4 linked regions of the Homo sapiens genome follow. The protein of the gene in region 2 interacts with the protein of the main gene of each other region in a biochemical or structural test. Each region holds a gene or a part of one and is shown on either strand. Other genes may lie near its edges. The genes, in order: RTF1, ENG, PRRC2B and CTTN.

Region 1 (7,968 bases), on a different chromosome or scaffold from region 2:
CCCAGTACTTTGGGAGGCCAAGGTAGGAGGAAGGATCCCTTGAGCCCAGGAATTTGAGACCAGCATGGGCAACACAGGGAGACCCTGTCTCTACAAAAAATTAAAAATCAATTCGCTGTGGCCAGGAGTGGTGGCTCACGCCTGTAATCCCAGCACTTTGGGAGGCCAAGATGGGCAGATTACTTGAGGTCAGGAGTTTGAGACCAGCCTGGCCAACATGACGAAACCCCGTCTCTACTAAAAATACAAAAAGTAGGCAGATGTGGTGGCATATGCTTGTAATCCCAGCTACACAGGAGGCTGTGGGAGAACTGGTTGGGCCCAGGAGGCAGAGAGGTTGCAGTGAGCTGAGATCACACCACTGCACTCCAGCCTGGGCAACAGAGCAAGACTCTGTCTCAAAATAAATAAATAAATTAGCTGGGCATGGTGGCACACACCTGTGATCCCAGCTACTCCAGAGGCAGAGGAGGGAGGATCACTTGAAGCCAGGAGGTCAAAGCTAGAGTGATCCATGACCACGTCACTGCACTTCAGCTTGGGTAACAGAGTGAGACCCTGTCTTCAAAAAAAAAAAAAGGAGTAGGGGGCCGGACACGGTAGCTCACACTTGTAATCCCAGCACTTTGGGAGGCTGAGGTGGGCGGATCACAAGGTCAGGAGATCGAGACCATCCTGGCTAACACAGTGAAACCCCGTCTCTACTAAAAATACAAAAAAATTAGCCGGGTGTAGTGGCGGGCACCTGTAGTCCCAGCTACTCGGGAGGCTGAGGCGGGAGAATGGTGTGAACCCAGGAGGCAGAGCTTGCAGTGAGCTGAGATCACGTCATTGCACTCCAGCCTGGGCAACAAAGCGAGACTCCATCTCAAAAAAAAAAAAAAAAAAAAAAAAAAAAGGGATATCAGTATTGCAGTAGAGGGGTTGGAACAAGAACCCCCAAAGTGACAGTGTCCTTTATCTCTTCAAGTAATCTCAATGTAACCAAGTTAGAAAATGTCCCACCATGTAGCTTGGGTGACACAGTGAGACCCCAGCTCTAAAAATAAAATTAAAAAAAAAAGAAGGCGGCCAGGCATGGTGGCTCATGCCTGTAATCCCAGCACTTTGGGAGGCCAAGCCAGGCAGATCACCTGAGGTCAGGAGATCAAGACCAGCCTAGCCAGCATGGTGAAACCCCGTCTCTACTAAAAATACAAAAATTAGCCAGGTGTGGTGGCGGACACTTGTAATCCCAGCTACTTGGGAAGCTAAGACAGGAGAATCACTTGAACCCGGGAGGCGGAGGTTGCAGTGAGCTGAGATTGCCCCACTGCACTCCAGCCTGGGCAACAAAGAGCAAAACTCCATTTCAAAAAAAAATAAAACTTGACACCATAGGTATGCCAAGTAGCATCTGCTTATTCAACAAAAATTTATTAAGTGCCTACTCTGTCAGGCGAGCATCGGCATAATTATTATTACTGTTATTATTATTTGAGTCAGGGTCTCACTGTCACCCAGGCTGGAGTGCAGTTGTGTGATCATGGCTCTCTGCAGCCTCAACCTCCTAAGCTCAGGTGATCCTCCTATCTCAGCCTCCTGGGTAGCTGGGACTACAGGCACACACCACTACACCCAGCTTATGTAGCTTTTATTTTGAATGAATAGCTGGGACCACAGGCGCATGCCACCACACTCAGCTAATTTTTTAAAAATTTTGTAGGGCCGGGCGCAGTGGCTCACGCCTGTAATCCCAGCACTTTGGGAGGCCAGGGTGGGTGGATCACGAGGTCAGGAGATCCAGACCATCCTGGCTAACACGGTGAAACCCCGTCTCTACTAAAAATACAAAAAATTAGCCGGGCATGGTGGCGGGTGCCTGTAGTCCCAGCTACTCAGGAGGCTGAGGCAGGAGAATGGCGTGAACCCGGGAGGCGGAGCTTGCAGTGAGCCGAGATCGCACCACTGCACTCCGGCCTGGGCAACAGAGCAAGACTCTGTCTCAAAAAAAAAAAAAAAAAAAAAAAATTTGTAGACCAGGCATGGTGGCTCATGCCTGTAGTCCCAGCACTTTGGGAGGCCAAGGTGGGTGGATCACGAGGTCAGGAGTTCAAGACCAGCCTGGCCAACATGGTGAAACCCTATCTCTACTAAAAATACAAAAATTAGCTGGGCGTGGTGGTGGGCCCCTGTAATCCCAGCTGCTTGGCAGGCTGAGGCAGGAGAATTGCTTGAACCTGGGAGGTGGAGGTTGCAGTGAGCCGAGATCACACCATTGCGCTCCAGCCTGGGCAACAGAGTGAGACTCTGCCTAAAAAACAAACAAACAAACAAACAAACAAAAATTACACACACACACACACACACACACACACACACACACACACACACATATATATGTAGCGGCTGGGCACAGTAGACTCACGCCTGTAATCCCAACACTTCAGGAGGCCGGCGGGGGGGGGGGGCGGGGGGGGGGGGGGGCGGGGTGGATCACCTGAGGTCAGGAGTTCGAGACCAGCCTGGCCAACATGGAAAAACCCCATCTCTACTAAAAATACAAAAAAATGGCCAGGCACAGTGGCTCACGCTTGTAATCCTAGCAGTTCGGGAAGCCGAGGTGGGCAGATCATGACGTCTGGAGTTCGAGATCAGCCTGGCCAATATGGTGAAACCCTGTCTCTACTAAAAATACAAAAAATTAGTCAGGCATGGTGGCGCACGCCTGTAGTCCCAGCTACTCGGGAGGCTGAGGCAGAAGAATCGCTTGAATCCAGGAGGGGGAGGTTGCAGTGAGCAGAGATCGTGCCACTGCACTCCACCCTGGGCGACAGAGCGAGACTCTATCCCAAAAAAAAAAATAAAAACAAACAATCAAAAAAATTAGCTGGGCATGGTGGCATGTGCCTGTAATCCCAGCTACTCAGGAGGCTGAGGCACGAGAATCGCTTGAACCCAGGGCGGAGGTTGCAGTGAGCCAAGATGGTGTCACTGCACTCCAGCCTAGGCAACAGAGCGAGACTCCACCTCCAAAAAAAATTTTTTTTTTTTGTAGAGATCAGGTTTCATCATCATGTTGCCTAGGCTGATCTCAAACTCCTGAGCTCAAGCAATCCTCCCACCTCAGCCTCCCAAAGTGCTGGGATTACAGGCATGAGCCATTGTGCCTGGCCCTCAAGTGTTATTTTCAACTACCTACTTGATGTCTCCACTTAGACATCTCATAGTCACTTCGAACTCCACATATCCCAGACTGAATGCAGGATCTTCACCTCTAAACCTGCTCCTCCAGCACTCCCCATCTCATGCCAGTGCCTGGCATCAATCCTAAATACTCCTCTTCTCATCCTAACATCTAATCAGTCCTCAGTCTTCAAGGCCTTTTAGTTCTACATACTGAACATCATGTCCAACCAATTCCACTATCTGTCATCTCTATAACAACCATATCAATCCAAGTCAGTCCTTCATTTAATAAATACTGACTGGGTGCCAACTGCATATAGGCACTGCTCTAGATGCCAGGGACAGCATAGTGAACACATACGGTTACCCTCCTGGCGCTTCCATTCTAATGGAACTTATGTTCTCCATCATCTCTCATCTGGACTCCTCTCTCTGCCACTTCATTAGTGTCCCCCTCCATATTACTCTCCACAATAGTCTGGGTAAGGCAAATCTGAAAATCTTCTCCAACTTAAAATCCTTCAATGGCTTCCTATTACTCTCAGAATAAACTCCAAAGTCTCTACTAAAAATACAAAAATTGGCCAGGCGCGGTGGCTCACACCTGTAATCCCAGCACACTTTGGGAGGCCGAGGCGGGCAGATCATGAGGTCAGGAGATCAAGACCATCCTGGCTAACATGGTGAAACCCGTGCCTACTAAAAATACAAAAAAAAAATTAGCCGGACACAGTGGCAGGCGCCTATAGTCCCAGCTACTCGGGAGGCTGAGGCAGGAGAATGGTATGAACCCGGGAGGCGAAGCTTGCAGTGGCAGAGACAGCGCCACTGCAGTCCGGCCTGGGCAAAAGAGCGAGACTCCGTCTCAAAAATAAAAAACAAAAATTAGCCAAGTGTGGTGGCACACACTTGCAGTCCCAGCCACCGGGGAGGCTGACGCCCTCCAGTGGCTTTAAATTTTTTTCTTTTTTTCTTTTGTTTTTTTTAGACGGAGTCTCTCTGTCACCCAGGCTAATACAGTGGTGATCTCGGCTCACTGCAACCTCCGCCTCCTAGGTTCAAGGGATTCTCATGCCTCAGCCTCACCAGTGGCTGGGACTACAGGTGTGTGCCACCGCACTTGGCTAATTTTTGTATTTTTACTAGAGATGGGGTTTCGCCATGTTGGCCCGCCTGGTCGAACTCCTGGCCTCATATGATCCACCCACCTCGGCCTCCCAAAGTGCTGGGATTAAAGGCGTGAGCCACTGCGCCTGGCCAAAAAACTTTTCTCTTTTTAACGCAGCCCACAGGAAGATAAATTATACCTCACAACCCAGTATACATCTACATGTACATATGAGACACACAAATTTCATCACTTATATTTACTATGTATGACACATTTGATGTTTTCTATCAATTCAATTTTATTTTTACTGCTGAGTGTAGTCCGTAAACTGACTTCTCCATCCTCAAAGGGTCAAAACAGAATCTACCTCTACAGTTTCATTTGTACTATTCTCTCTCCAACTATGCAACTAGTTTATGTTACTCACTCTGTGCTTCTTTCAGTTTCATAAGGGTTCGAGGTCCTTCCTGTCTCATTTCTTTTATATATGCTGGTGCCTCAACCATGAACATTCAACACTCTTCCCTTTACTCTTCAGTCTTCTAATCTGCTTCTCCTTAACACATATTCCAGGTCTGTTTCAATGTCACTCTCATCAGGCTAGAATAGGGTCCCTGGTTAATATTTCCACAGTATTCTTGTCCTTGCTTCATGGCCTGTAGTGCAATTGTAAGGAAATTACTCTCTCTGAGCAATCTCCCCACCTCATCTCTCTCTCATTCCACTTTACACTCCTTGAAGGTGGAAACTGCTTCCATTTTGTTCACCCAATAGCTCTAGTGTCTAACGCTGTCTAATACATCTGTTGAACGATGAACAATCAGGCCGGATGCGGTGGCTCATGCCTGAAATCCCAGCACCCTGGGGAAGCCAAGGAGGGCGGATCACTTGAGGTCAGGAGTTTGAGACCAGCCTGGCCAACATGGTGAAACCCCATCTCTACTAAAAATACAAAAATTAGTCGGGCATGGTGGTGCATACCTGTAATCCCAGCTACTTGGGAGGCTGAGGCAGGATAATTGCTTGAACCCGGGAAGCGGAGGTGGCAGTGAGCTGAGATCGTCCCACTGCACTCCAGCCTGGGCAACAAAGTGAGACTCCATCTCAAAATAAATAAATAAATAAATAAAAATAAATACACCAATATGACCTGTGTCTGAAGATCAGTTTTGTATTTTTCCTAAAAGCCTCACTGTTAAAGCTCCCAGGGCTGGGCGTGGTGGCTCACCCCTGTAATCCCAGCACTTTGGGAGGCCGAGGTGGGTGGATCATCTGAGGTCGGGAGTTTGAGACCAGACTGACCAACATGGAGAAACCCCATCTCTAATAAAAATGTAAAATTAGCCGGGAGTGGTGGCGCGTGCCTGTCATCCCAGCTACTCGGGAGGCTAAGGCAGGAGAATCACTTGAACCTAGAGGCGGAGGCTACAGTGAGCCCAGCGTGCCATTGCTCTCCAGCCTGGGTGACAGAGCAAGACTCCATCTTGGGTGGGGGCTGGGTGGGGAGGGAGCTCCCATGGGACTCACTCTTTGAAAAGAGTGAAATTAACAAGCGAATTACATCAAGCTAGATGCAACATGACACAAATTAAAGTTTTCACAAATTAACACTGACACTTCTCACAAACTCTTCCTACACTTCAAAATTTGCCTCTGATTAATGCGGAAAACACTACATTAACAAGAAGCACAACTTTTAAATTTCTCAAGATTTATGGGGAAGGTTTATAGAAGTATACTTTATAATAATAATATTCTTTACATGTAGTATCTAAAAACAGCTCCTAGAAAATACTTACAGGGCTGGCCGGGCACGGTGGTTCACGCCTGTAATCCCAACACTTTGGGAGGCCGAGGAGGGTGGATCACGAGGTCAGGAGTTCAAGACCAGCCTGGCCAAGATGGTGAAACCCCGTCTCTACTAAAAATACAAAAATTAGCTGGACGTGGTGGCGTGCGCCTGTAATCCAAGCTACTCGGAAGGCTGAGGCAGAGAATTGTTTGAACCCGGGAGGCGGAGGCTGCAGGAGCCAAGATCGCGCCACTGCACTCCAGCCTGGGTGACAGAGCGAGACTCCGTCTCAAAAAAAAGAAAAAAGAAAATACTTAGGGGGGCCTATTCTCTCAAAGACAAATTTAATTATTGCTACTTCAAGTTAGATAAACAGAGAAAAACAGGACATGACAATATAATCTCCATTTTAAATAAGAAACCTATAAAATAAAGCATCCCAGTGTGCACATAGCTCAATTTTTAGTTTTTTAGAAAGGTAGAGTAAAATTTTTATAAATACGGAGTTGTACTGATTTGAATTGAGAACTCTGGTTCCTTTATTATCTTGAATGCTTTTCATTTTATAGGACTTACTGCATAAATATTATTCCATAAAGGGAGATGACATAGAGCCCAGAGGTTTGCCTCAAATTATTATTTCCCAATAGGCACCAACAGCAAGTATCTTGAAATTTAAAAATGTTGAAGAAAGGGTGTGGTCAAAATAAGGACAGAGTCACTATCAGGTCAAATGCTAAAAGAAAAGCTTTCAAACTCTCAAACTAGGTCTTAGTTTTAAAAACTTTCAAAGGTTAAAATAAGGCCAGGTGCTGGATCACCTGAGGCCAGGAGTTAGAGACCAGTCTGGCCAACATAGCGTCTCTACTGAAAATACAAAAAATTAGCCAGGTGTGGTGGCAGGCGCCTGTAATCTCAGCTACCCAGGAGGCTGAGGCAGGAGAATTGCTTGAACCCAGGAGGTGGAAGGTGCAGTGAGTCGAGATCGTGCTATTGTACTCCAGTCTGGGCGATAGAGTGAGACTCCATCTCAAAAATAAATAAATAAACAAACAAACAAATAAATAAATAAGGCCTGGTGTGGCAGCTCACACCTGTAATTCCAGCACTTTGGGAGGCCAAAGCCTGAGAATCACCCAAGCCCAGGAGTTTCAGACTAGCCTAGGCAATGTAGTGGGACCCCCATCTCTACAAATGATTTTAAAAATTAGCTGGGTGTGGTGGTGCACACCTGTAGTCCCAGCTACTTGAGAGGCTGAGGGGGAAGGATCACTGAGCTAGGGAGGTCAACGCTACAGCCGTGAGCTGTAATTGTGCCACTGCACTCCAGCCTGGGTGACAGGAGTGAAACCCTGCCTAAAAAAAAAAAAAAAAAGAACCAGTAGTTTTGCCATCTTAAAACCTCCCTGTCAAGTTCTTTTAGTTATACAAGTGCCTTTTTTTTTTTTTTCTTTGGGACAGGGTCTCACTCTGTTACCTGGGCTGAAGAGAAACGGTGGGACCACAAGTAACTGCAACTTCAACCTCCCAGGCTCAAGCAATCCTCCCACCCCAGACTCCCAAGTAGCTGAGACTAGAGGCACGCCACCATGCCCAGCTAATTTTTAAATTCTTTTTTTTTTTTTTTTAATACAGAGTTTCACTCTTGTTTCCCAGGCTGGAGTGCAATGGCACGATCTCGGCTCACCACAGCCTCCACCTCCTGGGTTCAAGTGATTCTCCTGCCTCAGCCTTCTGAGTAACTGGGATTACAGGCAAGCACCACCATGCCTGGCTAATTTTGTATTTTTAGTAGAGACGAGGTTTCTCCATGTTGGTCAGGCTGGTCTCAAACTCCCAACCTCAGGTGATCCGCCCACCTCGGCCTCCCAAAGTGCTGGGATTACAGGTATGAGCC
Region 2 (3,500 bases):
CCAGTTCCTGAGCAACCCCCACTTAGCAGGAGCCGGCCTAGCGCTGTGCAGGTGTAATTTACTGGCCTGCTTGCCGACTCCATGGGAAGCTGTTATGATGACCCTCATCCCCATGTTACAGATGAGAACACTGAGGATGGAAAGGCAGCTGGCAGGTGGAAGAATCAGGACCTGAACCTTTGGCATCTGTCAAATCGCTGTGCTTTTCACCTCTACTGTAGGCTGCAGTGCAGGAACTTGACCCTGCAGGCATCGTAGAACCAGGGGGGAGCCCGGGGCCAAGGCATGCTGAGACCTCCTGGTGGCTGGGGGCAGTGGCTGGGCTGGATGCTGGGAAACCTGTGAGGCTGTAATTGGGCCTGAAAAGGGTAAAGAGTGGCCCGGGGGTACTGAACAAGACGGGGCAGGCATTGCAGCAAGAAGGACCCTTGTTGAAACGTATCTTCCTTGGGAGGCTGAGATGGGTGGATTGCTTGAGCCCAGGAGTTTGAGACCAGCCTGCGCAATACGGCGAAACCCCGTCTCTACAAAAAATACAAAAATTAGCTGAGTGTGGTGGTCCACTTGTAGTTACTCAGGAGGCTGAGGCATGAGAATCGCTTGAACCTGGGACGGGGAGGTTATAGTGAGCCGAGATCGAGACACTGTACTCTGGCCTGGGTGACAGAGTGAGACTCTATCTCAGAAAAGAAAAGGGGGGGTGGCAGCGGGAAGAAAAGTATCTGTCCTAGTATGATGAAATAATATTCACAGCTTCTGTGTCTGGGGCACCTACTTAGTACCAGGCACTCAACAGGGGTTACCCCATCAAACTGACACACTCAGCCTGTGAATGCCTGCTGCTTGCTGGAGCCAGACTGTCTGGGTTTAAATCCAGGCCGTGACACTTAGTAGCTGGGTCACCTCGGGCAGCTGGTCTTCAGTTTCTTTAACCGCCCTGGTCTTCAGTTTCCTGGAGTGTGCATGGGTGTAATAGCGCCGCCCACCTCACAAGGCTGCTGTGAGGATCAAATGAGTTCACTCGTGTAAAGCTGCCTAGGCTCCCAGTAAGCATGATGGGAGCATCTGCAGTGATTATTGGTGGTCTGCAAATGGGGAAACTGAGGCTCAGAGAGGTTAGGCTTCTGCTCAAGGTGACCAGCATTTTAAGAGGCAGAGCTGGGATTTGATCCAGGCCATCTGGCTCCAGAGCTGTTTTTCTTGATCATCCTCCAAGGTGCTGAAGGTAGCCCTCTGGAAATCTGGGAGGTGCTGTGTGCACATGGGTGGCGAGGGTGGAGAGGGGACAGTGGTGGGAGGTGGCTTCTGGGTCTCTCACTTGGGGTTCCAGTCACCCAGGCCCCCAGCGGCTCCTCCTCTGACCCAGTCCCGGGAGGCCCTGGCGTTTCCCTTGGTGCCAGGGGATTGTTTTCAACTTGGTCTGGGCCCGCCTCAGGCTCCGGGAGACAGGCCCAGGCGTCACACTCCCTCCTGTCTCCCCATTCTCGTCTGCGGGGTGGGGGCGGCCAGGATTCGAAAAGGCCCCAAAATAAATGGACCTCTTATCTGATCTCCCCGCCAGGCCTGTTATCTGATCATTACATAATGGCCAGGCTTGTGGCCTCTCCCGCTGGCTGACGGCATGGAGGAGGCGGCCCCAGGCGGCCCCAGCAATCCGGGAGGAACTGGGGTTCCTGGAAGTCTGGGGAGGGGGCAGGGAAAGTCCCAAAGGGAAGGAGGGAGGCGCTGCGATAATCTGCAGGCCAGACACTGGGTCATGTTGGGAGACGCGGGTCCGAGGCCCGGCCTGGTCAACCATGTGCTGTGAGACTTTGACCTGTCCCGTCCCTCCAGACCTCAGTCTCCCCATCTGAGTAGGAGGGGCTTAAGCTAGGTAACAGCCAAGGAACCTGCGCTCACCGATGAGGAAAGGAGAGGGTGGGGAGAACATGGGGGCTGGTGGGTCAGAGGGACTGGAGACAGGAGATGGCACCAGCCCTTGATTTTGTTGGGGTGAGGGAGATCCCAGTGACCTCTCCATCCCAGAGGACCGTCACCTGGAGGCCACCCCATCCCGCCACTTCACCCCACCCCTTAGAACAGTCAATTCTACAGTGACTGAAGTCAGTCAAATAATTGTAATTAAGAGAAAGCTGCCGGCCAGGCATGCTGGCTCACTCATGGTGGCTCACACCTGTAATCCTAGCACTTTGGGAGGCTGAGGCGGGAGGACTGCTTGAGCTCAGGAGTTTGAGACCAGCCTGAGCAACATAGTGAGACCCAGTCTCTACTGAAAATTTAAAAAATTAGCCAGGCGTGGTGGCGCACAACTGTAGTCCCAACTACTTGGGAGGCTGAGGCAGGAGGATCGCTTGAACCCAGCAGCTCAAGGCTGCAGTGAGCTGTTATCACACCACTGCACTCCAGCCCAGGAGACAGAGGGCAACCTTGTCTGAAAAATAAACAAATAGAAATTTAAGAAAGAATTGCCATGTGCCCAGTCTCATGGAGTCCTCCCAGCCACCTCTGTGGATCATGTGGGCTCTGTTGTCATTTTATAGACCAGGTATTGAAGCCCCAAGAGGTGAAATCATTCACCAGAGCCACATAGCTGGTAAGCATTGGGCCTGAGAGGCAAACCAGGTCAGCCTGGCTCCAGGGAGCTTGCTTTTAACCAAAATGCCACTATGTCCAGGCACTCCAGAGTCCCTGGGACATGTAGGATAGGGTCAGAGAGACGACATATAAGGCCTGGGCCCCCGTGGCAGCCAGAAGTCCTCATCCAGATCTTCTCCTTCCCAAGACAGAGCTGGGAATGGCGTTGCCATGGCAAGGGGTGACCATCTCACTTCCTTTGCTGACTTCTGGGGCCCAGAGCCCAACGTGCTGTGGGAAGGTGAGGAAGGAGGCCGGTGAGGCTCCAGACAGCCCAGGGTTCAGAAGAAGCCTCCCTGCCCCCTCCTCTGAGCCGGCCTTGGCTGGACATGAAGCCAGTCTCTCCGCGCCCATCTTTGATCTCCAAGAAAACAGGAAGTGAGCGCGACAAGATGGAGACACAAACTTCCAAACAGTCTCCCCTTCTGTCCTCCTTCCCTCCTCCGGAGCCCCCTTCCCCCGGCACATTCCTCAGGACGAGGTGTAGGAGCCTCATTTCCTTTTCCGACCCTGCTGGGTCAGGGTGAAATTCCATTCCTTTCCCTCAGGACCTGTGTTTCCGGGCTCTGCGGTCTGCTCTGGCAGCCTCCAAACCTGGGCCGCCTTCTCGGCTCGCCCTGTCCCTTGGGGCTAGGGAACTCTCAACCCCTTCAGACCATTCCTCCCACCACCTTGAGGCAAGAGAGGGGAAGCTTTGTCTCCTGAGCTCAGCTCCTGCCTTACCTGGAGGGAGACTTGGGTTCACACCTAGGCCCTGCCATGAAGTTAGGGTTGCCAGATACATCAAATGAAAATCAGCCGGGTGTGGTGGCTCATGCCTGTAATCCCAACACTTTGGGAGGCCGAGGTGGGAGGATCTCTTGAGT
Region 3 (7,968 bases), 3.6 Mb from region 2:
TTCACTCTCAAGGACTCCAGGGGCCACCGACCAATTCATGGCCTGGCATTTCTGAGACGTGTTTAAAGATAGAACAAATGTTGATGCTTATGTTTTTTTTTGGTTGTTGTTTTTTGTTTTGTTTTTCTAGCTTTCTTTTTAAAAAGTGTTTTAGTTTTTGTTTTTGTTTTTTCTTTTTAAAACTAAGCTCTGTGTTCAGCATGGAAACCAGGAACCAGGCTCCAATCGCATTGACTGATTTTTCTGGTTCCTTTTCAGGAATGAAAGCTCTTTCTCTGCCTCACTCGGAAGGGCAGGGGGCGTAAGTGCTCAGCGCGATCTCTTTGAGGAGAGAGGGGAGGAGTACTTGAGTGCTTTTGACAAGAAGGCCCAAGCAGACTTTGACAGCTGTATCTCTTCTCAAAGAATAGGCCAGGAGCTTTTGTTTCCACCCCAAGAAAATGTTCAGGATGCAGGTGCTCCTGGGGGTCACACCCAAAACCTCAGGTGTTCCCCATTGGAGCCTGACTTTGTCCCAGATGAGAAAAAGCCAGAGTGTGGCAGTTGGGATGTTAGCCACCAGCCAGAGACCGCTGACACAGCCCATGGTGTTGAGCGGGAGACACCCCGGGAGGGGACGGCCTTTAACATCTCCTCCTGGGACAAGAACGGGAGCCCCAACAAACAGCCATCCTCGGAGCCTGAATGGACTCCCGAGCCCCGGAGCTCCAGCAGCCAGCACCCGGAGCAGACGGGCAGGACCCGGAGGTCGGGACCCATCAAGAAACCAGTCCTGAAAGCCCTCAAGGTGGAAGACAAGGAGAAGGAGCTTGAGAAGATTAAGCAGGAGCTAGGGGAGGAGAGTACCCGGCTGGCCAAGGAGAAGGAGCAGAGCCCCACGGCAGAAAAGGATGAGGACGAAGAGAACGATGCCTCTCTGGCCAACTCCTCCACCACCACTTTGGAGGACAAAGGCCCTGGCCATGCCACTTTTGGCCGCGAGGCCACCAAATTTGAAGAGGAGGAGAAACCTGACAAGGCCTGGGAAGCCAGACCCCCACGAGAGTCCAGCGATGTTCCCCCCATGAAGAGAAATAACTGGATCTTTATTGATGAGGAGCAAGCCTTTGGGGTCAGAGGACAGGCCCGGGGCCGGGGCCGTGGTTTCAGAGAGTTCACTTTTCGTGGTCGGCCTGCTGGCGGAAATGGGAGCGGCCTCTGTGGTGGGGGGGTCCTGGGGGCCCGCAGCATCTACTGCAGCAGTCAGCGCAGCGGCCGTGGCCGGGGCCTGCGAGAGTTTGCGCGGCCAGAGGACTGCCCCAGAGCCAAGCCCCGACGGAGAGTTGCCAGTGAGACCCATAGCGAGGGCTCAGAGTATGAAGAACTTCCCAAGCGCCGCCGGCAGAGGGGCTCCGAGAACGGGAATGAAGGCTCGCTCCTGGAGAGGGAGGAGAGCACCTTGAAGAAGGGCGACTGCAGAGATTCTTGGCGGTCCAACAAGGGGTGCTCTGAGGACCACAGCGGTCTAGATGCCAAGAGCCGAGGCCCTCGGGCCTTTGGGCGAGCCCTCCCTCCCCGGCTGAGCAATTGCGGGTATGGACGGAGAACCTTCGTCTCCAAAGAGTCACCCCACTGGCAGAGCAAAAGTCCAGGCAGCTCTTGGCAGGAATATGGCCCTTCCGACACATGCGGATCCCGGCGACCTACAGACAGAGACTATGTCCCAGATTCCTACAGACACCCTGACGCATTTGGTGGCCGGGGCTTTGAGGACAGCCGCGCGGAGGACAAGAGATCCTTCTTCCAAGATGAACACGTGGCAGATTCTGAAAATGCAGAGAACCGGCCCTTCAGGAGAAGGCGCCCCCCACGCCAAGATAAGCCCCCTCGATTCCGGCGCCTCCGGCAAGAGCGGGAGTCCCTGGGCCTGTGGGGACCCGAGGAGGAGCCCCACCTGCTGGCAGGTCAGTGGCCAGGCAGGCCCAAACTGTGTTCTGGGGACAAGAGTGGCACTGTGGGCCGCAGGTCCCCTGAGCTCTCCTACCAGAACTCCTCCGATCACGCCAATGAGGAGTGGGAGACGGCCTCCGAAAGCAGCGACTTCAGCGAGCGGCGGGAGCGGCGGGAAGGCCCTGGGTCCGAGCCCGACTCCCAGGTGGATGGTGGCCTGTCGGGGGCTAGTTTGGGTGAGAAGAAGGAGCTGGCCAAGAGGAGCTTCTCCAGTCAGAGACCCGTGGTTGACAGACAGAGCCGAAAGCTGGAGCCGGGAGGGTTTGGGGAGAAGCCCGTTAGGCCAGGTGGTGGTGACACCTCCCCTCGCTATGAGAGCCAACAGAATGGGACGCCTTTGAAAGTGAAAAGGTAAAACCAGACACCATCTGGGCCCTTTTTGTTGTTGTGTTCTGTTCTCAGCAGCACTGAGTTCACGCATGCATGCCGATGCCGCCGTGTGTCGGGGCTGGGGGCCTGCCCCCAGGCCGTCTGTGCGCGTCTCCATTGCCTGCCCCCACATTGCCTGTCTGCTTCTCGTGGTGGTGTTATTGTGGCTAGAGCTCCCACCCCCACCCCCACCCCAGTGGTGCTCTTGAGGCCACTGTCCAGCACCTGACCTGAGAGTCCAGTCATGTGTCCCTGGAGCCCCGCCGAGGGGCCGCTGCAGCGAGGAACGTTGCCTGTGCACAGTGCCAGGTGCCGGTCAGTCCACCAGAGTCCTCTGCTCCGGAGTTGCTGCCAGGCGGCGTCCTAGGGGGCATCGCTGGCCTCGTGGCTGCATGGAAGTGGCTCTTCCTAGATGGTTCTGCTTCTCCACTGTGAGGAGACGTGGCCCCACGGTGGGGTTGCCACCTCAGCATGGCAGGAGCCCAGCAAACGCAGAGGGGAGCAGGCTGCACATGGTCTGGCGAGCACCTCTTCCACAGCCAGAGGCATTCGGGTGATGACCTCTGCTCAGGGACCAGGAGAGGGTCCCCTGCACAGTCTGGGTTGACTGACTGCACTTGGCTTGTGCCTCGGACAGGGAGGTGCAGGGGCTGCTGAGGCCTTCCCTGTCCTCAGCATACTGAGGAAGATGGCTTCACACCTCCACTCTCCTTAGAATTCAAGGCAGAGAAACTCCCAGAGAAGGAGCCACAGGGAACACCGACTCTTTCAGGTGGCATCTAATCCAGCTTTCCAGGCGCCAGAGGCTGACCCTTGGCTTCACCTCAGTTTTCTGCCCCAAGGGCCCTCCGGCAGGGCAGTCCTGGAGAGGAGCAGAAATGCTGGCGTCTCCATTCTGAGCATATTCCCCTTGTCTCTCTCCCCCCTACACTCTGAACATAGCATGTGGGAGAGCCCTGGGGAGCCACTTTCCCCAGGAGCAGGCAGAGCCGGTGGGGGCAGCCTTACACGTATGTTTGCACACGGACATGGATGCACTGTGGCCAGCCTGCCGCTCCTCCCCACCCGAGGAGTCAGCTAGAGGAAGTGGGCCTAGATCAGGGTGCCGGGCTTGTGTGCAGGCTGTGTGCACGTGCGGTGTTTTCCCTCCTTCCCCAGCTCTGGTTAACAAGATCCTCTTTCCCTTACAGATCCCCAGACGAGGCCTTGCCTGGAGGTCTTAGTGGCTGCAGCAGTGGGAGTGGCCACTCCCCCTATGCCCTGGAGCGGGCAGCCCATGCCAGTGCTGACCTTCCCGAAGCCTCCAGTAAAAAGGCAGAGAAGGAGGCCAAGTTGGCTGCTCCGAGGGCAGGTGAACAGGGAGAGGCCATGAAACAGTTTGACCTGAACTATGGAAGTAAGTCATCCTCATATCTTCAGGGGAAAGAACTCAGGCAGAACCAGGGGCCATGCAGTCCTCGGGCCTCCCGAGTTTGCCCTTGCACTGAGTACCTTAGCTTTCGGAACAGCTCGGCCAGGCCCTGGGCTGGGTTCTGGGGCTGTAGAGGTGAGCAGAGTAGGTAGGATTCCCACCGAGTGTTGCTCACAGCCCGTTGAATCCCCGTGACACCCTGCAGCTTCCGGGCTTTAAAGAGAGGAAGCCTGGGGCCCAGAGACGTTCGGTGGTGTGTCCGAGGTCACACACAGCTGTAGGAGCAGAGCTGGGGTTTAAGCTCTTTGCGTGTTCTCTCAGTTGTGCCCTTGGGCCTCTTTGGTTTGGGGTAACAATGTGTTAGATCAGAGGCGGCCTGAGAAAAGTGCGGAAGTCCTGTCCAGGTTTCTGTCGAGCCTGATGCTAGATCTCAGGCGCCTGTTGAATTGGGTTGTTCTTGTCTCCTGGTGAGTGGAAAGACTGTTCCTTCTCGTGAAATCTTGGTTCAGGTGCCATCATTGAAAATTGCGGGTCCAGCCCCGGGGAGGAGAGTGAGGTGGGTTCTATGGTGGGCGAAGGCTTCATCGAAGTCCTGACCAAGAAGCAGCGCCGCCTGCTGGAGGAAGAGAGAAGAAAGAAGGAGCAGGCCGTGCAGGTGAGGGGCGGAGGGTGGGGGGGCATGGGGCTGGAGGGCAGGCTGGCAGATGCCCAGGAAACCCAGAGCCAGAGGGTAAGGGAGTTCTCGGTCAAGCTCAAGGTGGCAGAGAGGAAGAAAGGAGTATTTAGCAAGCACACATTGTCTCCCCGTTCCTGCTATTACCAAGGCCCTTCTATCAATGTAGGAATAGGTGGTGGCATCACTGTTATGCAGTGGAAGAAACCGAGTCTTGAAGAGGGTGACTTCTCTAGGGTGATAACAGTGGAAACTTGTCCAAGGCAAGATGCAGACCTCCGTCACCTCCCAGCTTCTCCTTCCTCCCCACTCCTCATTCCTGAGTGGAATGAGATTTGTCTCCCTCAAGTCAAGTGGATCGTGAACGCTATACTAAAATGGAGTCAGGGCTGGACCTGCACACAGATTACAGTCCGTTGGCCTTTCAGGTCTTTCTTGGGGGGTGCTTTGCTTGGCATCGCAGTTCTGCTTGAGGTTTTGGGAGACGAGCGTTCCACACATCTCTGGAGCATTTTCAGGTGGTGTGATTTTTGGTACCTGGGATACTTATCCTGGGGAGAATTTGTCAGTCTTGGTGCCTTTGGCTAGACTACAGCATCCTTTCTTCCCCTCAGGTGCCTGTCAAAGGTCGAGGCCTTTCCTCCCGTATTCCTCCTCGATTTGCAAAAAAGCAGAACAACTTATGTCTGGAGCAAGGTGACGTGACCGTGCCTGGCAGCAGCCTGGGCACTGAGATCTGGGAGAGCAGCAGCCAGGGTGAGAGTTGGGGGTGTGACCCCAGCTGTGGCACCCAAGGTCACATCACACACTGGGTTTGCTTCTGGGGAGGATCCTGCTTTTGAGCTACGAATATAGATGGAATACAGATGGAGTACCTGTTTGCTGTGTTCCGCTGCTGAGCTAGTCGCTGAATGCCGTCTGAGTGATTTGCTGCTGCAACCCCCAAACGGATACACAATTTTCCTTGCCTAAAATTGGTAGAAGAGCAGAGCATTCATTAGTCTGGTGATCTGGAAAAGGATGGCCCCTTGGGCTTAGATCACACAGTAGTGGGAATGGCCTTCTTTGTTGGTCGTCGTTTTCTCCCACTAACTTATGGAAGAGAAGCAAATGACAGATAGACCAGCCGCAAGAGTTCAGGAGCTCTCTTCTGTGCTGTGCACCCTTTTCTTAACATGGGGAAGGCTCTGGAAACCCCTCCCTGAATGCTCTTCTGGAAAGGCAAACTGAGACCAGAAGACGGTATACGTTACTTCTTAGAACATTTGTTGCCCTGAAAACTTTTTTTTTTTAATTCTATATCAAATGTAATTTTTCTGGGAATTTTTCCTTATAAAATAGAAAACTATTTTCATAGAATAGGTTCTTCTTGAGGTTTAGGTGAGGCAGGGCCCTGCGCTGTTAGCCCAGAGCATGCATAGATGAATAAAAACATGGACATTCGATATTTCACAGCTCAGGCCCATGAGGGGAGCTTGGAGAGGTCACCTAGTGCCAGCTCATTTTTCTGCAAAGCAGCTGAAGCTTCTAGAGGGAAGGGACTTGACTCAGGGACTCCAGGGTCATAGGACAAGCACCCGAGACACTGAGTTCTGGGCCTTGATTCTTTCACTGTTTCCACATAGCTTGTCCTCATGTGCTCGGTGAAAACTTTGGTTCTTGCAAACTACAAAATAACATTCAACATGCCCAGCTTTGATGGAAAGGAAGCACAACCATTTGATAAAACATCAATAACACTACATTTGGTAGTGGCTGAGTGACAGGTGTCATAGTATTGGTGTCCAAAAATGCCCAGGTGCCAGATTGGTTGAGCTGCCAGGTGTGAATCAGATGTGACTCTCAGGTGTGAGTCATCATCCCCTTTTGTCAGATCTTTTACTCCAGAATTCTGCAGGGGCTCATTGGTTTCTCAGACCAGGGGTTGTGTCCAAGGGATGGCTTCAGAGAGCCCTTGGATATTAAAATAGCATGTGAAAGGATTTTTTTTTTTTTTAAAGATGGGGTCTCACTATGTTGCCCAGGCTGGACTTGAACCCCTGGGTTCAAGCAATCCTTCTGCCTCAGCCTCCTGAGTAGCTGGGATTGCAGATATGTGCCCCCACCCCCTGCTAGCATGTCAACTTTTGCATGCATATCTATTTTTCTGGGCTCCGGATCCATGGCCATTCAAAAAGTGGTCTGTGAGCTTAAAAATTTTTAGTAATACCCGCTGGGATCTTTCAAAGACTCTGTAGAAGCCACCAACTTTGGCCAGGAGTGGTGGCTCACACCTATAATCCCAGCAGTTTGGGAGGCCAAGGCTTGAAGATCACTTGAGATCAGGAGTTCAAGACCAGCAACAGAGTGAGACCCTGTCTCTATTGTTTAAAAAAAAAAGAAGGCCAGGCCTGGTGGCTCACGTCTGTAATCCCACCACTTTGGGAGGCTGAGGCAGGCAGATCACCAGGTCAGGAGATCGAGACCATCCTGGCTAACATGGTGAAACCCCGTCGCTCCTAAAAATACAACAACAACAAAAAATTAGCCGGGCGTGGTGGCGGGCACCTATAGTCCCAGCTATTCGGGAGGCTGAGGCAGGAGAATGGCGTGAACCCGGGAGGCAGAGCTTGGCAGTGAGTGGAGATCGCGCCACTGCACTCCAGCCTGGGCGACAGAGCAAGACTCCGTCTCCAAAAAAAAAAAAAAAAAAAAAGAAAGATATATTTTTTAATGTAAAAAAAGAGAAGCTACCAACTTTTAGAAATAGTATAAGTGAAAAGAAGCATGAGCATAGCGGAAATAACGACAGAGAATCCAGATTGGCAGGAGTGAGGGCTCTGCCCTGCTCACTCTCTCCTGTAATCCATGAGATGTTGAGAAACACGTTGGGTGAGGATGTGGAAAGTTGGGTAAGGCTGTCAGACCAGCTCTTCCACGTCAGAGCCGTTCACTGGGTGTCACGGGTAGGGGGCTGGGGTGGCGGGTGCAGGGGAGGCAGGGGAGTTGGATTTCTGCAAGCTGTGCCTGTGCTTGTTCTTTAAGAGCTCATAAACTCTCTAGACGGGTTGCTCTTTGATGCCCTGACTCTGTCTTCCTCCCCTGGCAGCTCTCCCTGTGCAGGCCCCAGCCAACGACTCCTGGAGGAAAGCTGTCACTGCCTTCAGCAGCACCGAGACTGGCTCTGCGGAGGTGAGTGTGGCCGCTGCCCACATGCTGCCCCTGGGATGAGTGTGTGAGTGTGTGCTCACCATCCACACGGCCAGCTTGCTGTGGCCCACCCAAGCCCCTGCCACAGCAGCTGAGCTTGGAATTAGGTTGTTTCCATGGGGCCAAGCTCATCAGTGGTTTTCCATCTTGATTTCTGGCCTGTGCATGGGGCGTGCATGAGCAGGAGAAAGAGAAAAGGGGTAACAAGGGAGGACCCAACGCTGGGTGGGAAGAGGGATTCAGGGCCTCCTCTGAACTGGTGTCAGCAGCCACGTAGTCTGGTTTGGGTCACAAGTGAGATGGGTTTGGCAGCCTCGGTCTGGGGCCCATAGAAGAT
Region 4 (7,968 bases), on a different chromosome or scaffold from region 2:
ACTTACCACATCCCCCCAGGGCCCGGCAGGGTAAAGGCAGCAGGCAGCAGCGTAGCCAAGGAGGGACAGTCGGGTGGTGACAAGGCCACGGCCATCGAGGCCCAGATCCCAGACCCGGCCTGTCTCCAGGGCTCTCTCTGGGCTCCTGAACTACCATGGTCTGGAGTGTGACCCCTGTAACTGACTGGCTCCTGGGCGAGCAGAGATGAATGCATAGACCAGGATGATGGCCATGGGATGGAGAAAGGGCAAGGGCTGGGGACAGGAGAGGTGGTTACAGGTAGAGGGTGTGGTTAGCGCAGAGGTGCTGGCGGGGAGCAGGAGACCCAAAGTCAGGGATGGGCGGGGCATCGGCAGGCGGCTCCGTAACTCAGGGATGGGGACGGAACACTGGGGGACCCATGAGAGGGGGTCAGCAGCACAGGGAGGGGCCGGACAGCATGTCTGCAGCCACACTCATGAGGGGCTGCAAGGCTGGAGAGCTGAATGGGGCAGGCATAGAAGGCAGATTGTGCGGGAGGCAGGGGCTCAGTGATGAAGGAGGGCAGCACTGCCATTAGGGAGTGAGGCGGCGTCCTGCACAGCAGAGAGCAAGTGGGGTGAAGACACCCCCATCTGATTATCTGATAGCAGGTGACTACAGCAGGGACTGCAGTGACAGTGGCCAGACTACAACAGGCTGCAGAGGGGTGAAAGGATGGCATGTGGGCCTGCACAGCTATCCCCTGACAGCACTGAGGCATGTCACCCACCCCCCAGGCGCTCCTGGCCCACCCCTCTCCGGGCGTGGAATGCAGCGATGCCCTCTACACCCACGCCACACTGCCTGCCTGCAAGGGCTTCCTCCACTCCACAAACAGGACCTGGGCTCTGGCAGTAAGTCACTCACGCTCATTCAAACACCAAAGACACCAACCTCATAGACGGGGCTCGAGGGCAGCCTCTCCTCGGTTGGCTGAGGTGCGGGCGACACAGGGGGCGTTTGCGTTTTGGCTCTGGCTTGCTCCTGTGATTGAAAACAAACAGCAATCAGAATGCTGCCATGACACTCTGCACTGTCACGCCTGCCGTGTTTCAGAAGATCGTGTGCAAGCTCTAGGCATGCTCTGGGGAAAGGAGTGGAAAACACCCACACCAAGGCTGAGCTGGAGCACCAAGCCTCAGATCCCACCAGCACCCCAGCAGGATCCGAGGGGCAGGGGAGCTGGAGCACCAAGTCTCAGATCCCACCAGCACCCAGGCAGGATCCGAGGGGCAGGGGAGCTGGAGCACCAAGCCTCAGATCCCACCAGCACCTAGGCAGGATTCGAGGGGCAGGTGTGCTCTGAGGCCGAGATCACACAGCCAGTGACGCGACAGTGCCGGGACTGGGCCACAGCTCATTCTCGCCCACACACGATTAGATAGTTTAGGCACAGATTTGGGAGTCTGAGTTGATGCTGCAATGGGTTGAGACTTTGGGGACCTTAAAATGGGCTGAGTATGTTTGCACATGGGATGGACATGAAGCTTTAGGGGCCAAAGGATGAACTGGGGTAGGATAATAGCCCCTCAAAGCTGCTGACATCGCAGTCCCCAGACCCCATGGGGAGGGACTGTGTATGTGATGAAACTAAGGGTTCTGTGATGGGGAGAACTCTGGACTGCCTGGGTGGACCCAATGTAATCACAAGGTCCTGAGAGGAGGGAGGCAGGAGTGTGAGGGACAGAGGAGGGGCGGTGACAACAAAAGCAGAGGCTGGAGATGGGAAGACAGGGCCGAGGGGCCACCAGGAGGAACACAGCCCTGCTGACATCTTTGAGGACCTCTGACCTCCAGAGCTATAAGACACTAGCTGTGTGCTGTGTGTGGTGGTGACTACGGCAGCAACAGGAAACTCACTGACAGCCTGTGGGCTCCAGTGCCAGACGCTGAGTCTGAGGGTGAGGTGGCAGGCACAGGCACACTGGCCAGGGAGCTGCCCAGGCAGGATCTGAACCCCAGGTGTCCACTCCAAACCCCTTCCCTCCTCTCCCTCTGCAGGCGGCCTTGCTCTAACGGGAACAATGGTAGTGCTGTCTTGTCTTTTTGAAGAGAAAACCACCCCTGGTCTTGAGACCCTAGCACGGTTCCTGGCATCTATGGCCTTGCTTGACCCCAACAGGACAGTTGTAAATTCCCACGTCACCTGATGCCATCCACAGGTTAAACACCCAAAGTAGCACGTCCTGTGTGGCCCTGCAGGGGCAGGGCCTGGGGTGGATAGGAGAAGCCCAGGCTTCCAGACAGGCTGGGCCTGCCCCACACTGCAGATGCCCCAGCTGCAGAACCACACCTGGTAACTTCACACACACACATCTGTAGGCCTCAGGCTCTATTCACAACCCCCCTGATCCAGCTGAGCACAAGGAAAGTCCTTGTCAGTGGCAAGCCACCCAGGCTAGACCCAAAGCACCCAGACACAGGCTCGTGCTCCGCCCCTGCCAGGGGTGCACTTCTGGCATCTTTCTCTGGGAGCGCTTCTCCACAGCCCAGGGGCTTGGGTGAGCGGGGCTGGGCTGGCCAAGCAGAAGCAGGCCCCGAGAGCAGGCTGCCTCTGCACAGAGTCCCCTCCAAACCCCAAACTTCCACCTGGGAAAGGAGGGGCTTCCAGAGGGGGAGGGGTGAGAAGAGACTCAGGCTGACATTTGGACAGGAGCCCCGTGGAGGTGGAAGCCGACAAGACTCTGCCGTCAGCTCAGGGACAGAGGGCAGGGCAGGTTGGCGGGTCCTGGGGCTGGACCGGCAAGACCAGGATAGCGCTAGCCGGCTGCCTGGAGCATTGTGGCCAGAGACTCAGCCTATGTGTGGCTGCAAGTGACAAGTGCCTTAATGGAGAGCCTTAAAGGAGAGTTAAACATGCCTTCCAAGGAAAACCTGGCCAGGAGAGAATAAGCCCCGCCCAGGCCCCAGAGCTCCCAATCCCCTCGGCACAGGTCCCAGGGAGGGTGCGCTGCGGCCCACTCCTTGCCACTCACCTCCAGCTTCCTCCTGGCCTCTTCCTGCTCCTGCCGCTCCTTGGCCATCCGCTGGGCTCTCTCCGCCTCCGCCTTCCGCCTGTCCTCCTGCTCTTTCTCCTTAGCGAGGTTTTCAAAGTTAGCTCTGATGTTACTTGTTTTGCTGGTCACTATAGAGGAAGGAGGGAGGACGTGTGCCTTGAGCACAGCAAAAACACTGCTCCTGGACAACAGCCCCACCCACACAGAGTGACCTCCCCAGGAACCGGTCATCCCCCTAACCCCCAAGGAGGGAAAGGTTCTTGCAGCTGCCAGCTCAGCCCACTGGTCCGGAGCCAGCACTGGGCACCTGCCGCAGGGCACTGCGTACCTGGTGGGACTGGCAATCCCCCTAAGCCTGGCATCAGGAAGATCTCTAAATAAGACGGTATCTTCACCACCACACTCACCTTTTTAAATAAAAACAGCCAATTTCCCTTAAAGACATCTGTCCTTGATAAAGCAGTTAAGGTACTGATGTATACTGTAATTGACGTATACTGAGTATAGTAAATCTCAACCAGAGTATACATTTTTTTATATTGTGTGTGACAAAAATGGAAAAGAGGGCAGTGGCTCATGCCTGTAATCCCAGCACTTTGGGAGGTTGAGACGGGAAGACTGAGATCAGGAGTTTGAGACCAGCCTGGGAAAGACAGTGAGACCCCGTGTCTATTAAGAAAAAATGATAAAAATTTAAGTCAAAAGTGGGGAATATGGCCGGGCATGGTGGCTCACACCTGTAATTCCAGCACTTTGGGAGGCTAAGGTGGGCGGATCACGAGGTCAAGAGATCAAGACCATCCTGGCCAACATGGTGAAACCCTGTCTCTACTAAAAATAGAAAAATTAGCTGGGCTTGGTGGCAGGCACCTGTAATCCCAGCTACTCGGGAGGCTGAGGCAGGAGAATCGCTTGAACCTGGGAGGCAGGGGTTGCAGTGAGCCGAGATTGTGCCACTGCACTCCAGTCTCGCGACAGAGCGAGACTCTGTCTCAAAAAAAAAAAAAAAAAAAAAAAAAAAAAAAGTGGGAAGACACATGAGCCTTCCCTGCTGTGTCCGGGACTGTGGCGGTGGCTGTCTGTGTCTCAAGGACCATGAATAGAACCATGAGAGCTGCAAGTTGACTGTTTTCTCATGGAATAGCGTTTTTCCCTGAAATAACAACTGACAGTCCAACTATGGTTATGCAAAGCTGGGTATCTGGCAACAGTTTTCTCCCAAGTGAATGAACTAAGCCTATTGTGTCAAGAAAAATTACTGGAGTATTTGTTGCCAACGGGAAAATTCCAGCTTTCAAGTAAAAGACAGAATTTTGAAAAATGTGAGGCTGCCACATGAACATGCTGATTTCCACTCAGCTTCTGCAGATGAAATAGATGATGACAGCAAATGTGATTTTTTTTGGTATTGTGGAATGAGAAGTGTCCACAACTGGAAGACGAGCACAACTCAGAGACCCAGCATTTTCCAAATGACCAACACACAGTGCTGCCCAAGCACAGTGGGTAGCGAGTCCCTCACAGGGCCAGAGGAGCCGGCCTGCAGGACCACCACTGCCTGGCACGCTTGGGCGGCGTCGCAGAAGGACACCCACGCTGCCCTCAAGGTTACAAACACTCCTCCCTTTCCCAATCGCCTACCTAGGTGATTCCACATGTTCTTCCTAAACAACGTAACATCGATAGACTGCAGAGGCAGATGTGAGAGTGCAGCCATCTTCTATTAAAGAGATTTACAAAACAAAACAATGCCGGTCTTCTCACTAAGTGCTGGGATTACAGGAATGAGCCACTGTGCATGGCCAGTTATATTATTATTTTTATTTTTTGAGATGGAGTTTAGCTGTTGTCGCCCAGGCTGGAGTGCAGTGGCGCAATCAAGGCTCACTGCGACCTCTGCCTCCAGGTTCAAGCAATTCTCGTACCTCAGTCTTCTGAGTAGCTGGGATTACAGGCGTGGACCACCATGCCCAGCTACTTTTTGTATCTTTAGTAGAGACAGGGTTTCACCATGTTGGCCAGTCTGGTCTCAAACTCCTGACCTCAGGTGATCCACCCACCTCGGCCTCCCAGAGTGCTGGGATTACAGGTATGAGCCACCACACCCGGCCAAGGTTTATTCTTTTTAAGTGAACCAATTAATAACTTTCCAATGTCGCTCATGCCTGTAATCCCAGCACTTTGAGAGGCCGAGGCAGGTGGATCACTTGAGCTCAGGAATTCAAGACCAGCCTGGGCAACACAGTGAGACCTCATCTCTACTAAAGATAAAAAAATTTGGCCGGGCACAGTGGCTCATGCCTGTAATCCCAGCACTTTGGGAGGCCGAGGCGGGCAGATCATGAGGTCAGGAGATCGAGACCATCCTGGCTAACACGGTGAAACCCCGTCTCTACTAAAAAATAGCAACAACAACAAAAAAATTAGCCGGGCGTGGTGGCAGGCGCCTGTAGTCCCAGCTACTCCGGAGGCTTGAGGCAGGAGAATGCCGTGAACCCGGGATGGGAGGCGGAGCTTGCAGTGAGCCGAGTCCGCGCCACTGCACTCCAGCCTGGGCGACAAAGTGATACTCTGTCTCAAAAAAAAAAAAAATTTAACTGGGCAGGGGGCATGCGCTTATAGTTCCAGCTACTCCAGAGGCTGAGGCAAGAGGACTGCTTGAGCCCAGGAGACTGAGGCAGCAGTCCTGCCTGGATGACACAGCAAGACCCGGTCTCAAAATAAATAAATAAATAAACCATTCCTCTCTCTCTTTTTTTTTTTTTTTTGAGACGGAGTCTCGCTCTGTCATCCAGGCTGGAGTGCAGTGGCGCAAACTCCGCTCACTGCAAGCTCCGCCTCCTGGGTTCACGCCATTCTCCTGTCTCAGCCTCCCGAGTAGCTGGGACTACAGGCGCCCGCCACCATGCCTGGCTAATTTTGTTTTTGTATTTTTAGTAGAGACGGGGTTTCATCGTGTTAGCCAGGATGGTCTCGATCTCCTGACCTCGTGATCCGCCCGTCTTGGCCTCCCAAAGTGCTGGGATTACAGGCATGAGCCACTGTGCCGGGCCACATTCCTCTAATTTCTAATATAGTCAATGTCATCAAATACATCAACATCTTGGGGGTTCTCACGAGTGGTCAAAGTGTCAAAGCGTCCTGGGCCCTCAATCTCTGAGAACTGTGGGTCCATAGCCCCTGAAGGAAGTCAGTGGTGGCTCTCTGCATCCTGTGTTAAATTTAGCACTTGCTCTCATGTATGTATAACATTTTCCCCAACTACTTGACTCTCCGGGGCAGGGCCCACATCTGACTCCATCGTGTGTCCAGCACAGAAAAGGACAGGTTTCGAGCTCCCTGTCAAGGGCCCAAGAACGAGCAGCAGAGAGAATGTCTGCTGTCGCCTGCACATCGACGTCATGATGTCTTCCTCCTGTCACAGCTGCGACCGAGCGGCTCAGGGAGTTGGGCAGGCCCCAGCTGCTCCCAGAAGCTGGTCACTGGCAGTGTGGAGGCCCTTGTGAATGTGCACTTAGCCCCTTTGCTCTGGGAAGAGCCCCTTGAAACGGGCCCCACTGAAACGGCTGCACCATGCTGCGTCTAAAAGGTGACTCTAAACCTCTGCAGGAGAAACAAGATCTTCATCAGAACGATCATTTTCTTTCCCAAAAATACGCAGCAACAACCACGCTTTCAACTAGTGGTGCATCTGCTCCTGGCTGTTTCACAACTGTCCTTCCCCTCAGTGTTTTCCTGGGAAACCACACGGTGCTCCTGGTATCAGCCGGGACTCACCAGCTTCGACAGGTACTGTCTTCTGGTAGGCAGAGGACACCTGGGTGACATCCTCAAAGGTTGACGCATTCTGCAGAGACAGGACATGGGCGTCAGGAGAGCACTTTTCTCTTTTCTCCATGCCCTGTGGTAGCTCCTGCCAGATGCAAATGCCTTCCCCAGATCTTCCCAAAGGCCCAGCCACACAGCCCAGAGCACTCTTCATGGCCTCTCGGTTTTGCAAACTAACTGAGGCATGAAAACTATTACCAACCACATTTGCAGGCAATCGTGGGTCAGCATTAGCATAAGAAATGCATGTATCTCCATCTGCTCTACCACAAACCAATTCTGGGATCAGCCTCAAGCCTTCCCCACCCTCCGTCGCCACCCAGAGGTGTGAGCATTTACAGGAAGCGAAGACGCTGGGGACACATGCAAGCCTCCAGTGGCCCGTCCTACACACTACCCAGTGGTGCAATCACACCTTTCTGCATTGCAGGGGACTCAACTATGGTCTGACCAAGCGACGGCGATGACTCTTACGTGCTGACTCAGGTGGAGACTGTCAGGGCTCATGGAGACCAGTGGCCGTACCCAGTTTCACTGTGGGTTTCACTACCTCTGATGAGAACACCTGAGGCTCAGAAGCCACCAGAGCCCCCATACCATGGCCCCTTTCTGCCCAGCACCTCCTGCTTGCCCCCTTCCTGGCCCGCCTGTCCTTCCTCGGACCCCGCTCCCTCCTCCCATCAGTCAGCTCCAGCGTCTACTCCATGTCCCTTGAGCTGCTTGCACCTGTTCAAAGGCAAGGCCATCAGCCTTACTGGGTCCCATCACCCACTGGGCCCTCTGCAGACATCACCTTGCCCTGAGGGGGCAACTTCACCTCCCAGCCTGGGTTGTAGCCCTATCCCCACAATGTATGGGGACCCGGGCAGTTACGTCACCCTCTCTAAGCCTTGGACTCCTCCATCACACAGCAAACAGAGAGAGAAGCTCCACCCCCTCCTGGATGAAAGACAATGACACGAAAGGCCACACCCACACACTGCCTCCTCACGTGCTCACAAGCTCAGCGGTCACCGCCAACACCAGCAATGCTGACCACAGACACCCACAACACAGGCAGTCCCTCAGGTTCCGGCCTCAAAGCCACAACCTCTGACTCACCCACAGGGGAGCTCCTTCCCT

What was found.
Region 1: the proteins of ENG (region 2) and RTF1 interact on a protein array, tested with the Homo sapiens proteins (one large-scale study listed by IntAct).
Region 3: the proteins of ENG (region 2) and PRRC2B interact on a protein array, tested with the Homo sapiens proteins (one large-scale study listed by IntAct).
Region 4: the proteins of ENG (region 2) and CTTN interact on a protein array, tested with the Homo sapiens proteins (one large-scale study listed by IntAct).

The regions. Positions count from the first base shown.
Region 1 is NC_000015.10:41,421,188-41,429,155, reverse strand, and holds part of RTF1 (RNA polymerase-associated protein RTF1 homolog), read right to left. Parts: intron 1-7,968. UniProt on the Homo sapiens protein: Component of the PAF1 complex (PAF1C) which has multiple functions during transcription by RNA polymerase II and is implicated in regulation of development and maintenance of embryonic stem cell pluripotency.
Region 2 is NC_000009.12:127,844,659-127,848,158, reverse strand, and holds part of ENG (endoglin isoform 1 precursor), read left to right. Parts: intron 1-1,023; exon of another isoform or gene 1,024-1,216; intron 1,217-3,500. UniProt on the Homo sapiens protein: Vascular endothelium glycoprotein that plays an important role in the regulation of angiogenesis. Required for normal structure and integrity of adult vasculature. Regulates the migration of vascular endothelial cells.
Region 3 is NC_000009.12:131,474,196-131,482,163, forward strand, and holds part of PRRC2B (protein PRRC2B), read left to right. Parts: intron 1-258; coding exon 259-2,340; intron 2,341-3,548; coding exon 3,549-3,754; intron 3,755-4,278; coding exon 4,279-4,424; intron 4,425-5,056; coding exon 5,057-5,198; intron 5,199-7,530; coding exon 7,531-7,613; intron 7,614-7,968.
Region 4 is NC_000011.10:70,424,229-70,432,196, reverse strand, and holds part of CTTN (src substrate cortactin), read right to left. Parts: intron 6,866-7,968; coding exon 6,796-6,865; intron 6,501-6,795; coding exon of another isoform or gene 6,418-6,500; exon of another isoform or gene 6,110-6,417; intron 3,147-6,109; coding exon 2,998-3,146; intron 1,007-2,997; coding exon 917-1,006; intron 1-916.